2 separate regions of the Homo sapiens genome follow, and region 2 is linked to region 1. A link means that fine-mapping ties the variant in region 1 to the expression of a gene that starts in the linked region. Tissue or cell type: aorta. Region 1 holds a variant in brackets; the other region holds the start of a gene. All regions are shown on one strand. Distances are from middle to middle.

Region 1 (7,783 bases):
TTTCTTTTTGATATCCCCTACAATGGCCACTTCAAATCTTTACTAGTTTCTGAAGTTCCTACTTCATCTCCATATTCATTTCATATTCATATTTACTGCAGCCTTGACCTCCCTGGGCTCAAGCACTCCTCCCACCTCAGCCTGCTGAGTAGCTGGGGCTACAGGCACACGCCACCCCACCTGGAGACTTTTTTATATTTTTGGTAGAGATGGGGTCTCTCCATGTTGCCCAGGCTGCTCTCAAACGCCTAGGCTCAAGTGATCCACCTGCCTTGGCCTCCCAAAGTGTTGGGATTATGGGCATGAACCAATGCGCCTGGCCACCTCTCTCTATATCTTTCCGTTACATGTCTTAAATTCTGCCCTTGGCTGATCTACCTATGCACCAGATCACATTTATTTATTCATTCATTTGTGTGGTAGACTGCCAATTGTTCCCCAATAGAGATTACTGGAATGTATCGTTAGTCTCTTTTATCTCCTCTCACTGAATTCTGCTGCTTAGAACTTTAATGTGATAGCTGGAACTTTATCTTGGACCAAGAAGGAGGGCCTCCTCCTAGGGATGGCAGACTAAAGAGGAAAAAGGAGCCTGGGTCTCTCAAGACTCCGTGGAATAGAATTGCCACGCCACTCCTGGAGGCTTTGCCTCTACTATTTTATATCAGGAAGAAACTTCTGGTTAAGCCACTGTTATAGGTTTTCTGTCCACTCTCAGCAAAACCTAATCCCGACTAATCACAGTTCTGAGATCTGGAATTGCACACCAAGTAACATAAGCTAAAGTAGTGCGCATGAGCTTAGTGAAGGAGGGTGGGTGTCAGGAAGCATCAACACAGGCATGTGTGGTCTGGAAAGTGGATGATTCTTGTGTGGAGCATCCTCACATTTTCTCCCTCTTCCGTTCCAGACTCTTATCTTTATCTTTTATTTTCAGTCCCTCTCCTGGCCTTTGCATTATTTACTAATCTTAAATTTGCTGATATTACCTTATTAGTACACTAATAATGTGTAAATAGACTTACTCTTGTAGCTATTTCCCCTCTTGGTTGTCTTAGCTCCATTCCCTTCAGTATCAAAATTCATGCATTCACTGCTTTGCAGAATCTCATTCCTGAAGCGAGAATTTCAGACAGCTGGTAAATTTAGTCATTCAAAGCTTTAAAGTAAATTCATATTACAAAAGCAACCGCTTTATTTGCATTGTTTCCCAATGGAACAGTTCAGCGATAACACTCATTACCTATTTTGACAACCAAGAAGTTGACATTAGCCAGAGACGGTTGCTAACACAATAATTATCTTTCCTAACTCATTTCTTTAAAATCATTGTACTTCCAGACCATTGTTTTTCTCTCTTTCCTGAATCCCCTAGGTCCTATAAAACACGTCATCAGATTACACCATCTACTGTCCCTCAGTTGTCTATATCATCCATACCCAATAGATACTCCCCTAATATTTTAATAATTATAGAGTTTAATAGAGGCTCAATACCTCTTTCACCACTCTTGCCATAATTCTTAGTGATTCCAATATCCATTGAACAATCTTTCCAATACTCAGACCTCTCAATTTTTTGACCTCCTGACCTCCAATGATTTTTTTCCTCCATCTGACCTCAGCTGCCAGTTCCAATGGTTACATCATAGACCTGGCCATCATCAATAACTGGCACTTCTCCACGGTTTCCATTTCAATCAAGCATCCCATTCTCTAATCACCAACTCCTATATTTCCTGCTTACTTTCTCTAAGATCCTCTCCAACAATTCTTTAACTCCCTTGGGTCCTCCATTCTATTGCTCCTGCCAACTTTTCATTCCATTGCAGCCCCTTTAGCCTCCATTGCAGTGAGGTATTACAAGCCACAGTTCCTTGCTTACCCAGCTTAGTTTCCACTGTACAATATTATAAATCACATCCTTGAAAACACTCTTAACTCCCTTACTGCGGTCTCCATCACCCTTGTCTAGTAATACTCCAATCCAAGTTAGATACAACTCTCTGTCTACTCTGTGCACACAAGTGACTGAACATGACTGGTCCTGTTTGCCATCACTCCCAATGACCCACTTGAGGGGTTTGTGCTGCCCCCTTCTGGAACTCTGGGCTTCAGCGAACTGGAGAGTGGGTGTTCTTTAAATGTTGCACCCTAGGTGCCTCCGTTGCCCTGGTGGACACCATGGTGTACCATCCAGATCTCCCCTCCAGAGTTGTCCTGAATCCGGGCCAGGAGCACTAACATTCCTTTATCCACCAATCACTGGATGTAGGTGGCCCAGGGAGCAGGTATGACTTTGAGCCAGGCAGCTCTCATGAGCCAAGGGCAAGTCTGCAAGAGACTGAGCGGGAGCTGTCAACCACCAACACTCCCTGCTGCTGGGGGCGTAAGAGCACAGGCTGTTCTAACCAAGCTGCTCCCTCCTCAGGGCTTTTGCACTTCCACTTCCTTCTGCCTGGATGTTCTTTTCCTAAGTTTCCAAAGGATGCACTCCTTCACTTCCCTTAGGCCTGTGCTCAAGCATCTGGTTGCCAGAGAGGTCTTCCCTAACAGCTGTATTCTCTCCTATCACTCCACTTTTTCTTCATAAAATTTAGCAGCACTCAACATATTTTATTACTTTAGCTGCTTGGTTTGGCCTTCCTTTGCTAGAGTGCATGCTCCAAGAGGACAGGGTTCTGATTTGTTTGTATCTTCCATGTCCTGAATAGTTCCTGGTCTTCATTAGGTCCTCAATATGTCAACATATATTTGATGGGTGCACAAATTGAAACGCCTTAAATTCATAGTAGTCAGCTCATAAGGCAGAGTGGTTTAGTGGAAGGAGCTTAGGGTTTGGAGTTAGACTGATTTTTGAAAACACCTTTATTTAGGTATAAGTAGCATTTAATAAATTGCACATATTTAAGACATAAACTCAATACATTTTGACATATGTATACACTCATAAATTCACCACCACAGTTCACATAATGAACATGTTCTTCACCCCCAAGAGTTTCCTCTTGCACTTTTGTAATCCCTCCTTCCTGCCATTCTCCATCCCCAGGCAGCCACTGATTTGCTTTCTGTTTTTAAGAGTAGTTTGCATTTTCTAGAAATTTATATGATTAGTTCAAACCATCTGTATTCTTTTTTTAGGTCTGACTTTTTTTGAGATTCATCCATGTTTTTGTGTGTTCCTTTTTTTGCTGGGAAAAATTTCATTTGTTTATTACTTATTTTGGCTGACAGACATTTGGTTTGCTTATAGTTTGAGGATTGTTAAAAATAATGCTACTGTGAATATTCCTGTATGTTTTTGTATGGACATATGCTTTCATTTTTTTTGAGTCAATACCTAGGAGTGAAATGGTGAGGCATGTGTTTAACTTTTTAAGAAACAGCCAAATTATTTTCCAAAATGATCGTACCATTTTTCATTCTTACCAGGTATGAGATTTCTGATTGTTCCACATCCTTGCCAACACTTAGTTTACTCAGTCTTTCTAATTTTATTATTTATTTATTTATTTATTTATTATTTGAGACAGGGTCTCATTCTATTGCTCAGGCTGGAGTGCAGTGGTGCGATCATGGCTCACTGCAGGCTTGACCTCCTGAGTTCAAGTGATCCTCCCGCCTCAGCCTCCCAAGTAGCTGGCACTACAGGCGCATGTCACCACATCCAGCTAATTTTAAAAAATTTTTTGTACAGACAGGGTCCTACGATGTTGCCTAGGCTGTTCTCAAAACTCCTGACCCCAAGTGATCCTGTTGCTTTGGTCTCTCAAAGTGCTGGGATTACAGGCACAGCCACAATGACCAGCTTCTAATTTTAGACATCCAATAAGTATGTATCTCACTGTGGTTTTAATTTGCATTCTGTGGGCCCAGCGCAATGGCTCACGCTTATAATCCCAGCACTTTGGGAGGCCAAGGTGGGCAGATGGCTTGAGCCCAGGAGTTTGAGACCAGCCTGGGCAACATGGTGAAACCCCATCTCTACAAATAATACAAAAATTAGCCAGGTGTAGTGCTGCACACCTGTGGTCCCAGCTACTCAGGAGGCTGAAGTGGGAGGATCATTAGAGCCTGGGAGGTCAAGACTGCAGTGAG[G/C]TGTGATTGCGCCACTACATTCCAGGTTGGATGACAGAATGAGACCCCGTCTCCAAAAAAAAAAAAAAAAACCTTTTCTGCATTCTGCTAATGACTAGTGATGCTGAGGATTTTTTCCATGCCTTTATTTTCCACGAGTATGTCTTCTTTTGTAAAGTGTTTGTTCATATCTTTTGCCCATTTTGTATTGAGTTGTTTTCCTATTACTGGGTTTTGAGAATACACACACACAGAATACAAGTCCTTTATAAGATATATATTTTCCCGCAGTCTGTGGCTTATCTTTTCATTCCCTTAATAGTGCAGATATTCTTCATTTTAATGAAGTCAAATTTATCAAATTTTAAAAATGGATTATACTTTTAGTGTTGTATATAAGAAATCTTTGCCTAACCCAAAGTCACAAAGATATTCTCTTGTGTTTTTTTTTCTGGACATTTTATAGTTTCAGGTGCTACATTTAGATCTATGATCCATTTTGAGTTCATTTTTTAATGTGGTGTGAGGTATGAACCAAAGTTTATGTTTTCTGCATATGGTTATCCAGTTGTTCCAGCACCATCTGTTGAAAAGTCTATTCTTTCTCCTTTGGATTGCCTTGTATCTTTGTTGAAAATCAATTATCTATATATGCGTGGGTTTATTTTTGGACTCTCTGTCCCATTGATCTATTTATCTATCTTCATGCCAATACCACCCGGTCTCTATTTTATTTTAGCTTTATGGTAAATCTTAAAGTCAGGGACGGTAAATGCAGTTCTTTTCCCTTTTTTGTAATCCTATCTTGGTTGAAAGTAGAAATCAGACTGATGCGTTTTAACTCTAGTTTGATCATTTAATTCTTGTGTGATTTCAGATAAGCCAATTAATTATGTTTATTATTCATTTATGTATCTGTTCATTGTTAAAATTATACATTGTAATTCTTAAATTAAATGCTAATTATTATTAAGAGTGTGAACTAGGAAGACAGCTCCGGAAATAAAAGGAACTAGCCAGGCGCAGTGGTGCATGCCTGTAGTCTCAGCTACTCAGGAGGCAGAGGTGGGAGGATTGCTTGAGCCCAGGAGTTGGAGGCTGCTTGGCAAAATAGCAAGACCCTGTCTCTAAAAAAATGAAAAAAAAAAAAAGGTACTGGAACTGCAGGGTGGTACGGGGGATGGATAAATTTAATGTGCTCACCAGGGACCTCTCACTATCTTTCTCAGTACAGGGACATGCTCCTGCCCTTTCATATTCCATGTTGAAGTTTTGCAACAAATTCTTCCTGACAGTAGGACCAATCACTTACTTTGAACTAAAAGAACAACAACAAATAAAGGTGAAAAAGAAAAATAAAACTGGTCAGCATCCCCGAGTTCAAAATAATTATTCTACCACATCAACAACTTTCTGTGCAGCTTTCTAAAATTTTTATTTAGACAGAAATTGTTTTAAAAAGAAGGTTGCTTTGAAACCAAGGTTACAGTAGCTTTTTGGCCCGCTTGCCGTGGCTTTCTCCAACTCTCTTCTTCTTTTCAGTCTTTGCAATACCTGTCCCTGCCGGTCTCCAAGTGCCCCTGGTTACAGGTCAGCTCCACACTGAAGGGGAGGAGCTACTTCCTAGGGTCTCTTCCCAGCATCACAGCCCTACATCCCAGCGACCAACGGTGTTATACTCCTGGGGGCCAAAGAGGACCCGGATTGCTTTGTTTTGTGCCATGTGAGTACTATGTCCAACAGGATGGCTGGTGGACGAGAGACATGTTTGCCTTTGATTGGATTCATTCTTATCTGTCTTAAAATGGTGAGTTCATCATTCCAACTACCCACAACTATTTAGGGGAAAAAAGAAAGACACATTATTTTTCTCTCCTTTTTTTTTTGAGGAGTTGGGGAATAGGGAGATAGAAATCAGAATACTTTGGTTTGTACCGAGGTTGTATATGTTTGCGTGTTTGAAATTTAATGCCATATACTAGAGAAAGAAAACAAGATTATCATTATATTTTAAGAACAAAGATTTCTGAAAAATCTGTCAGCAGCTACTGACTTAGTTCAATAGGCAGATTCAAAGGGGAAAAAAATGAAATAGTAATGGGATCTGCCTCCAGCCTCTAAATTCTATTTAGAGTTGTTTTGTGGTAGATTTGGGTGCTGGGAAATGATTTGTGTGGAGAAATACTTGTATGGATTGAAAGACTGCTCACGTTAGATGTAAAAATGTTGTGATTAATTTATTACCGCTTTTATTCATGTTTTACGTTTGTTCAAGTTGTGTTTTTCTGTGTGGTTCTAATTTTCCAAACTTTCCTTTTCAGGTTGCTTCAGCAAAATCAGGTACAATTTTCTGACCTGCAAGTTTTTCCTTCTCGTATTTGATTTTAATTTCCATTGTTAATTCACGGGCTACCCTGAAATCTAAAGGCTATATGAGAAAAAAAAATTCAATATTTTCTGAGCACTCACACTGGGTGCTAAGCACTCTATTGGGTCCTGGGGAGACAATAACTGGTAAGACAAATAAATGGATTGAACTCGAAAGACAAATCTTCATAAAGTGTTCTTGCTGAGGACTATAATGTACAGAGCCATGTAGGCATGCATTTTCTCATATACGGTTAGCCATGTGTGAAATATTACAATGATCATCATTCCAGTTAAGATATTGTACAGAGTCTAATTTATACAAATGTTCTTGTTTATCTTCCGGGGAATTAGAGGGAAAATGAGAAATGTTATATTTGATTAAATTGTCAATATTCCCTACTTTAAAAAGAACTTTATACTTCTAATATTGCATATTTGAAATATAGACAATAGTCACTCAGGGCTGAAAGGGGACCCTCTTTTAAAAATAGTTGATCTCCATCTTTCTTGAGTAGATAACCGAAGGCAAAAATAATTTATCTAGAGGCCCCTCCTAGCTCATTTGTGCTAGAAATCTAAGTACCTGGAATGGAAATTTATTTTTAGGAGGGTTAACTTATCTGTAGGAACCACATAATATCAACCATATCACCGATAAATTCTCATAGTGATTCAACATAAATTAGAAAAATTTTTATTTATTATTTTGTCTACACCACAGAAAAGGAAGTGAAATTAAGACAGTTAAAAAATTTGATACAGATACATGTCTGAGCCATGAAATTTCATAAAATTCATGCATATACAGTAAGTTTTTAAAAATTTCTATTTCCTGGCCAGGTACCAAGGCTCACGCCTATAATCTCAGCACTTTGGGAAGCCAAGATGGGAGGATTGCTTGAGCCCAGGATTTCAAGACCAGCCTGGGCAACATAGCAACACCCCACCTCTTGCTTTATTCTTATTTACTTGTCTTATTCTTGAGAGATCTTTAGGATTAGCCAGGAAACTATAGGAGGGTCTGCTTGGCCATATACAAAGTGGCATTTTTTTTTTTTTTTTTTTTTGAGACAGAGTCTCTGTCGCCCAGGCTGGAGTGCAGTGGTGCAATCTCGGTTCACTGCAAGCTCTGCCTCCCAGGTTCAGGCCATTCTCCTGCCTCAGCCTCTCCGAGCAGCTGGGACTACAGGCACCCGCCACTACCCCCGGCTAATTTTTTGTATTTTTAGTAGAGACAGGGTTTCACCGTGGTCTCGATCACCTGACCTCATGATCCGCCCGCCTCGGCCTCCCAAAGTGCTGGGATTACAAGCGTGAGCCACCGCGCCCGGCC
Region 2 (6,391 bases), 50 kb before region 1:
TGATCCACTAAATTTTTAACGAACTGGTACCGCTGTCTGTATAGTGGAGGTTTAAACTGAATTGCCGTCTCCCTGGGAACTTCTTCAAAATTACCGTCAACCACACTACTGCACTGAAGTTCACAAACAAAAAAAGACAGGTTCTAAATCATGCATGACTTCAGAAATTAAATAAGGGGCAAAAAAAAAAAAACTTTATTTCCCCCAATCACTTTGAAAAACACACTGGCCTTCACATACCCTTTGTCCTAAAATCATTAGGTAGCACTGCATTTCCTCCACAGTTCATGTAAGCATCCTCTCATGCCTTTTAACAAGAGAGAATCTAGCTGTATGCTCCCTATAGCTTAGTTTCAGCTGAAGGGAACATTACCAATGAATGTATTCAATGAAAACAATTAGATGACTCCTAACCATAAGGGACCTTTTGTGGAGTGAGTCGCCAAAGCCTGTGGTCCAAGTAGGCAGGAGGCTGGAAAATATTTATAATGACTGACTATATATATATACACACACACATATATATACACACACACACACACATATATGTACACACACTTACACACACACACATATATATACACACACACACACATATATATGTACACACACACACACACACACACACATATATACACACACACACACACACATATATATATATATATTTTTTTTTTCCCCCCAAGACGGAGTCTTGCTCTGTCACCCAGGCTGGAGTGCAGTGGCGCGATCTCAGCTCACTGCAACCTCCGCCTCCCTCAATTCAAGCAATTCTCCTGCCTCAGCCTCCCGAGTAGCTGGGATTACATTACAGGCATGCGCCACCATGCCTGGCTAATTTTTGTATTTAGTAGTGACGGGTTTCACCATGTTGGCCAGGCTCTTCTTGAACTCCTGACCTCGTGATCCACCCGCCTTGGCCTCCCAAAGTGCTGGGATTACAGGTGTAAGCCACCACACCCAGCCAACACTCTTTTTAAGAGAGAGAGAGGATCTCACTATGTCGCCCAGGCTGGTTTAAAATTCCTGGGCTCAAGCAATCCTCTGGCCTCGGCCTCCTGAGTAGTTGGGCATCTGTAGGAACATTCCAACACACCAGCAAAAGACTCTCTCACTGACCAAACTTCAGTCAGGTTCCTCTGAGCCATCTTCTTGAATAGACCTCAAACCCTGGCCCCAATCCTATCTTTGGGCTGCCTAGCCCAGTTTTAATAAGAATACTTCTAAGTCAGTTTAGACAGAATCTTCTACCCCTGATATCTGATCACCCTATCTGGTCAAATTCTTCATCTTTGCAATGTTCTTATTGCAACAGTCCTCAATAAAGTCAGACTAATTTTTTCTTTAACATGACCCCAAGAAAAAACAGAATTTATAAGATTAATCTGTAATAGCTGTTACTATTCCTATACAGCAGTATTATAAAAGTAGTCCAAAGGGTATTTGATATCTGATGTAGCACTGTCCAATAGATAAAATACAAGTAGGCAACTTTCTTGTAGCCCAAGAATTGGAATTATAATCGGAATTAGAATATTTAAACCAATATATCGAAAATATAATTTTTACATAAAATCAATATAAGAGATTTTAGATTCTTGTTTTTCACATTAAGTCTTCAAAATCCAGTGTGCTACATATTTTGTACTTCTGCGTCTCAGTTCCAAAACCTTCATCAGAAATACTTGTCTGTATTGGATTTAAAAACTTTACATTTAAAATATACATGCACATACCCAAGTTATTCCAAACATACTTTTTTCCAATAATGTAATCAAATATCCAATTTTAAACTTAAAATTAAAAATGAAGTTATGAGCCCAGGTGGTCAGCGTTGCAGTTAACCGTGACTGGGCAAGTGCATTCCAGCCTGGGCAACAGAGCAAGACCCTGTCTTAAAAAAAAAAAAAATTAAAGTTCGGTTCCTCAATTCCACTAGCCACATTTCAAGTGCCCACTTGCCATGTGTAGCTACTGGACAGCAGGGAGCTACACCCTAGGTACTCCCAATGTGGTTTCCAAACCAGTGGCATCTTCACCTAGAAACTTTAGAAACACAAAAGCTTGGGCCTCACCCTAGACCTCCTTAAACAGAATCTGCAACTTAACAAAATCCCCAGGTGATCCATATACACAACCACATTGGGGAACACTACTTAGAGTGTTTTTAAAATAGATTTTGCTACTTTAACACCTAGTGATAAAAGTAAAAACATTTATTTTACTTACATACACCAAATGTGACTCTTTCATCTATGTATACCCTTGTTTACCTCAACCAACACCCCGGGAAATGCTAGGACCTAAATGTGATCAATTTTGTTTGCAATTATCTCACAATACATCCAGGTGATAATTCTTAAGAGTCAAAGACGCAGCTAAGAAGGGTGGCATTACCTGTAGATTATTTTCTTCCATTTTGTTTCGAAGTTTTGTTGAAACAAAAATGAAGATTTATCCTTCAAGCTCTATTTGAGAGAATCAGCACTGACTCAGCTGTAATAAATACAAAACCGTTTTTGTAAAGCGATACCTGAAAGAAATAGCTGCCTAGTTCAGAAGGGAAGAACGAAAGCCTCTTTCTTACTCCTTACTACAGTATATAATTTAAATAGAACGCTTAAAAGTAAATAATGAATTCACCTCTGAGTACTCAAAAAAAAAAAAAAAAACACGAAAGCAGGACTCGAACAGATATTTATACACCGAAGTTCATAGCATTATTCACAATAGCCAATCTGTGGATTAAATGTGGACTACCATTTAATCCACAGAATGTATCCAGTATTTTTTCAGACATTCGCAAACAGGCTCAGAAAGCGTAACTTTTCACTACGTCAAACCCTACTAAGAGCGAAAACAGCCATCCTTTCCCTTTACTATCATGAATAGTTCAACTAGATACAAACGGAGCAATCTTAGGAGTTCTGCCCATTTCATTGCTAAGACCCTCAACTTCAAATTTTTTCAAAAATTTTTCCACACATCGTCAAAATGAAATTTCGAGGGGGAAAAAAAGTGTCCTTGATAAACTAGAGATGCTCCAACATCTATTCAATTCACTCACGAACTTGAATTTAAATTTTAGTTCTCTATTGCACATGTGTCTCCAACAACTAGACTTTAATCTGGAATCTAGGCAACATGTTAGTCACCAACTTGTATTAAGAAACCCTGGCCGGGCGCGGTGGCTCACGCCTGTAATCCCAGCACTTTGGGAGGCCGAGGCGGGCGGATCACGAGGTCAGGAGATCGAGACCATCCCGGCTAAAACGGTGAAACCCCGTCTCTACTAAAAATACAAAAAATTAGCCGGGCGTAGTGGCGGGCGCCTGTAGTCCCAGCTACTTGGGAGGCTGAGGCAGGAGAATGGCATGAACCCGGGAGGCGGAGCTTGCAGTGAGCCGAGATCCCGCCACTGCACTCCAGCCTGGGCGACAGAGCGAGACTCCGTCTCAAAAAAAAAAAAAGAAAAAGAAAAAGAAACCCTGCTCACTGAAACCAACGCTTCTGTCTTTGTACGGGCCGTCGCTTCCATCATCCTGCGGTAAGCAGCATGCCCAACCGAAAAAACAAAGCTCGTCGCGGAGCCGCCAGCGTCCTCAACTCAGCGCCGCCCTGACGCCCGCGCACGCACGGCCTCGCTGCGTGACGCTACCGCCGCGGCTACGCCGGCGCCCGCACCCGCGCCTCGGCCTCCCCGCGGGGCTCGCCAACCTCGTGCGCTCTCACGGTCGGCCTTGGGCCCCGGGAGCCTCATGGTGCGCCGAGCTCCGTCCCTCTAGGCTCTCAGTTCCAAGGCGTCGGTTTTGCGTCTCGTAACGGCCGCTGTGGCGCATGCCCAGAAGCCATTTTCAAGGTCCTCTTCCGAACCTTGGCGAGGACCCCTGCGCCTGCCGCGCCGTTGACCCCGCTAGCGTGCGGCTGCGACGCGGCACGGTACGGCAGCTGTTGGCGAAGGCCCCCAACTCCGAGCGCGTCCGCAGACCGCGAGCCGGAAGGCGGCTTGGGCGGCTGTTGAGTTCGTGGCGCTCCCGAGGCGTGGCAAAGGCCTAAAAACGGTCCTGGCCAGCGGAAGGCGGCAAGAGGAGCAGCAAGGCTCCACGCGAGGCGGCCGGCGGCTGGAGTCCCAGTCAGCCTCCGCTTTCATCCCAGAGCAGTCCACGGGGGCCTTAAAGGAATGTAGGCTGGGTGAAGTTGGCCCAGTGACACCTGCGTTCAGAAAAACGTTCTTTCCGCTCCCAACGCCCCCTCTCCACCGCCACCCGACCCCCGAAATAGTTTTCCCCGAGTGTTGTGGATAGAACTGTTGATCTCTTGGAAAAGTTATTGTATCCTGCCATCCTTCCCTCTGGAGACTCCACTTAATATATATAAGTACTTTCTTTCCTGTATATGATGGAAGAGTATTAGGGGGGTGAGGGGAGGGACGAAGCTGCCTTCTTTAGGGAAAAAAGATTGACTTATATTTTGAAAGATGCAAAAGCTGGTGTTTTTGCTACTGAATTAATAGCCTATTAATATGCCACAAATGATATATTGGAACTGTATTTTCAAACATTTAACGCCTGCTGTATGCAAAGCACTATGCTGACAGCTTAAGGGTACCACAATGATAAATTACACCAATCTTGTTTTTGGCATTTTGGGGAGTCTAGTGTCATAGGTAAAGAAGTACATAACTAACAATAAGCTTCAAAAATTCAATCATAAGGCCCGGCACCGTGGCTTCCGCCTGTAATCCCAGCACTTTGGGGGATCACTTGAGCCCCGGAGTGTGAGACCCCGTCTCTACCAAAAAAAAAAAGAAATTAGCTGGGCATGGTGGTGCCTGCCTGTGGTCCCAACTGTTTGGGAGGCTGAGGCCGGAGGATCACTTGACCCCAGGAATCTGAGCCTGCAGTGAGCTATGATTGCACCACTGCACTCCAGTCTGGGCGACAGAACCAGACCATGTCTAAAAAGAAAAAACACTCAGTGATAATTTCACATTACAGTTTGAGAGGTTCCTGTTGACTTGGGGAAACTAGTTTTAGCAGACTTCATTAAAGGAGTGTACACCTTACTACAGGATGTAATTTAAAATAGAATGTTTAAATAATAAATTCACTTCTGGGTATATACTCAAAGCAGGAATTCAAACAGGTATTTGTACACCAAAGTTCGTAACAGCATTATTCACAGTAGCCAAAATGTGGAAACAACCCAAATGTCCATTAAAGGATGAATAAACAAAATGTGATATACATACAATGGAATATTCAGCCTTTATTTTTCCAATCAGAGTTTCAGGAAAATCAACCTTTAAAAGGAGTGAAATTCTGACATTTGCTGCCACATGGATGAATCTTGATGATGATATGCTGAGTGATATATAATCAGTCACGGAAGGACAAATACTGCATGATTCAATTTATATCAGGTACCTAGAGTAGCCAAATTCATAGAGACAAAGTAGAATGGTGGTTGCTACGGGCTGAGAGGAGGAGGGAATTGAGAGTTGTTTAATGGGTGATGGAAAAGTTTTGTAGATAGGATGGTTGCACTGAATGCCACTGAACTTAAAAATTGTTAAAGTGGTTTTATGTATATTTACCACAGTTTCAAAAATTTTAAGGAAAACATAAAAGCTATCATCTATACAGCATTCCTGGATCTAGGGTTTTTGCCTCCCCTGCTGGTTAGCCCATTTATGAACTTGAGCTCCTCATGTCCATTCCCTCTCCAAATTTGCCTATTTCATCATTCTCCTGGCCTCCTACTCTTATTAGAGTCTGAAAAATCATCCTTGGCTCTGTCCATTTTTGTCCTTCCCACACTTGGACAATCACCAAATTTTGACTTCTTCAAGCTGTCATCTACCATCTGTTCCTTCCCACAGCTAATAGCTTAGCCTTGTCATCTCATTTTGTCATTATAACTCATCTTTCCTTCGTACACAAGGTAAGTCCTACTGAGTTATAGACCATGTAACGTCTTTTAGAGTGGATTTTAAGTCAAATAGGCCTTAAATCCAGATTTTACTATTACTGCATAACCTTTGGAAGTTGCATCCTCTCTGAGTGTTAGGGGGTTTTTTTAAGTTAAAAAATGAGAAATGATTACTTATTTGGTAAATGTGTATAGAGTATTTATTATGGATCAAGTACTTGTTTGAATTTAAAAGACAGATAAAGATCCTTTCATAGCTTTTACAGTCCAGCAGGTGTAGGTGTCTGGCACACAATAGGTAATCAAGAGTTATCCTGGGCTGAGTGAGGTGGCTCATGACTGTAATCCCAGCAGTTTGGGAGGCTGAGGCAGGAGGATGGCTTGAGGCTAGGAGTTCAAAACCAGCCTGGGCAACATAGCGAGACCTGTCTCTACAAAGAAAAAAAACATTATCTGGCCA

Which allele goes with the higher level. Positions count from the first base shown, and alleles are read on the strand shown. Sizes are in standard deviations (SD) of each study's normalised expression.
As copies of C replace G in region 1, the expression in aorta of the gene that starts at base 3,627 in region 2 goes up (moderate effect, 0.73 SD a copy in GTEx).

What was found. PIP is the estimated chance that this variant, and not a neighbour inherited with it, causes the effect.
Region 2: HENMT1 starts here. The variant in region 1 is fine-mapped to the expression of HENMT1 in aorta (GTEx, PIP 0.99).

Annotation. Positions count from the first base shown.
Region 1 is chr1:108,707,110-108,714,892 of GRCh38, forward strand. It overlaps FNDC7 (fibronectin type III domain containing 7), which reads left to right and starts at 5,799. Exons shown (of 13, transcript NM_001144937.3): 1 at 5,799-5,887; 2 at 6,402-6,420. The coding sequence starts at 5,825. The variant G/C (reference allele first, on the strand shown) is at 4,102.
Region 2 is chr1:108,657,467-108,663,857 of GRCh38, forward strand. It overlaps HENMT1 (HEN methyltransferase 1), which reads right to left and starts at 3,627. Exons shown (of 8, transcript NM_001102592.2): 1 at 3,497-3,627; 2 at 2,398-2,496; 3 at 1-113. The coding sequence starts at 2,418. RefSeq lists enhancers at 3,346-3,935, 3,936-4,524 and a silencer at 3,591-3,760.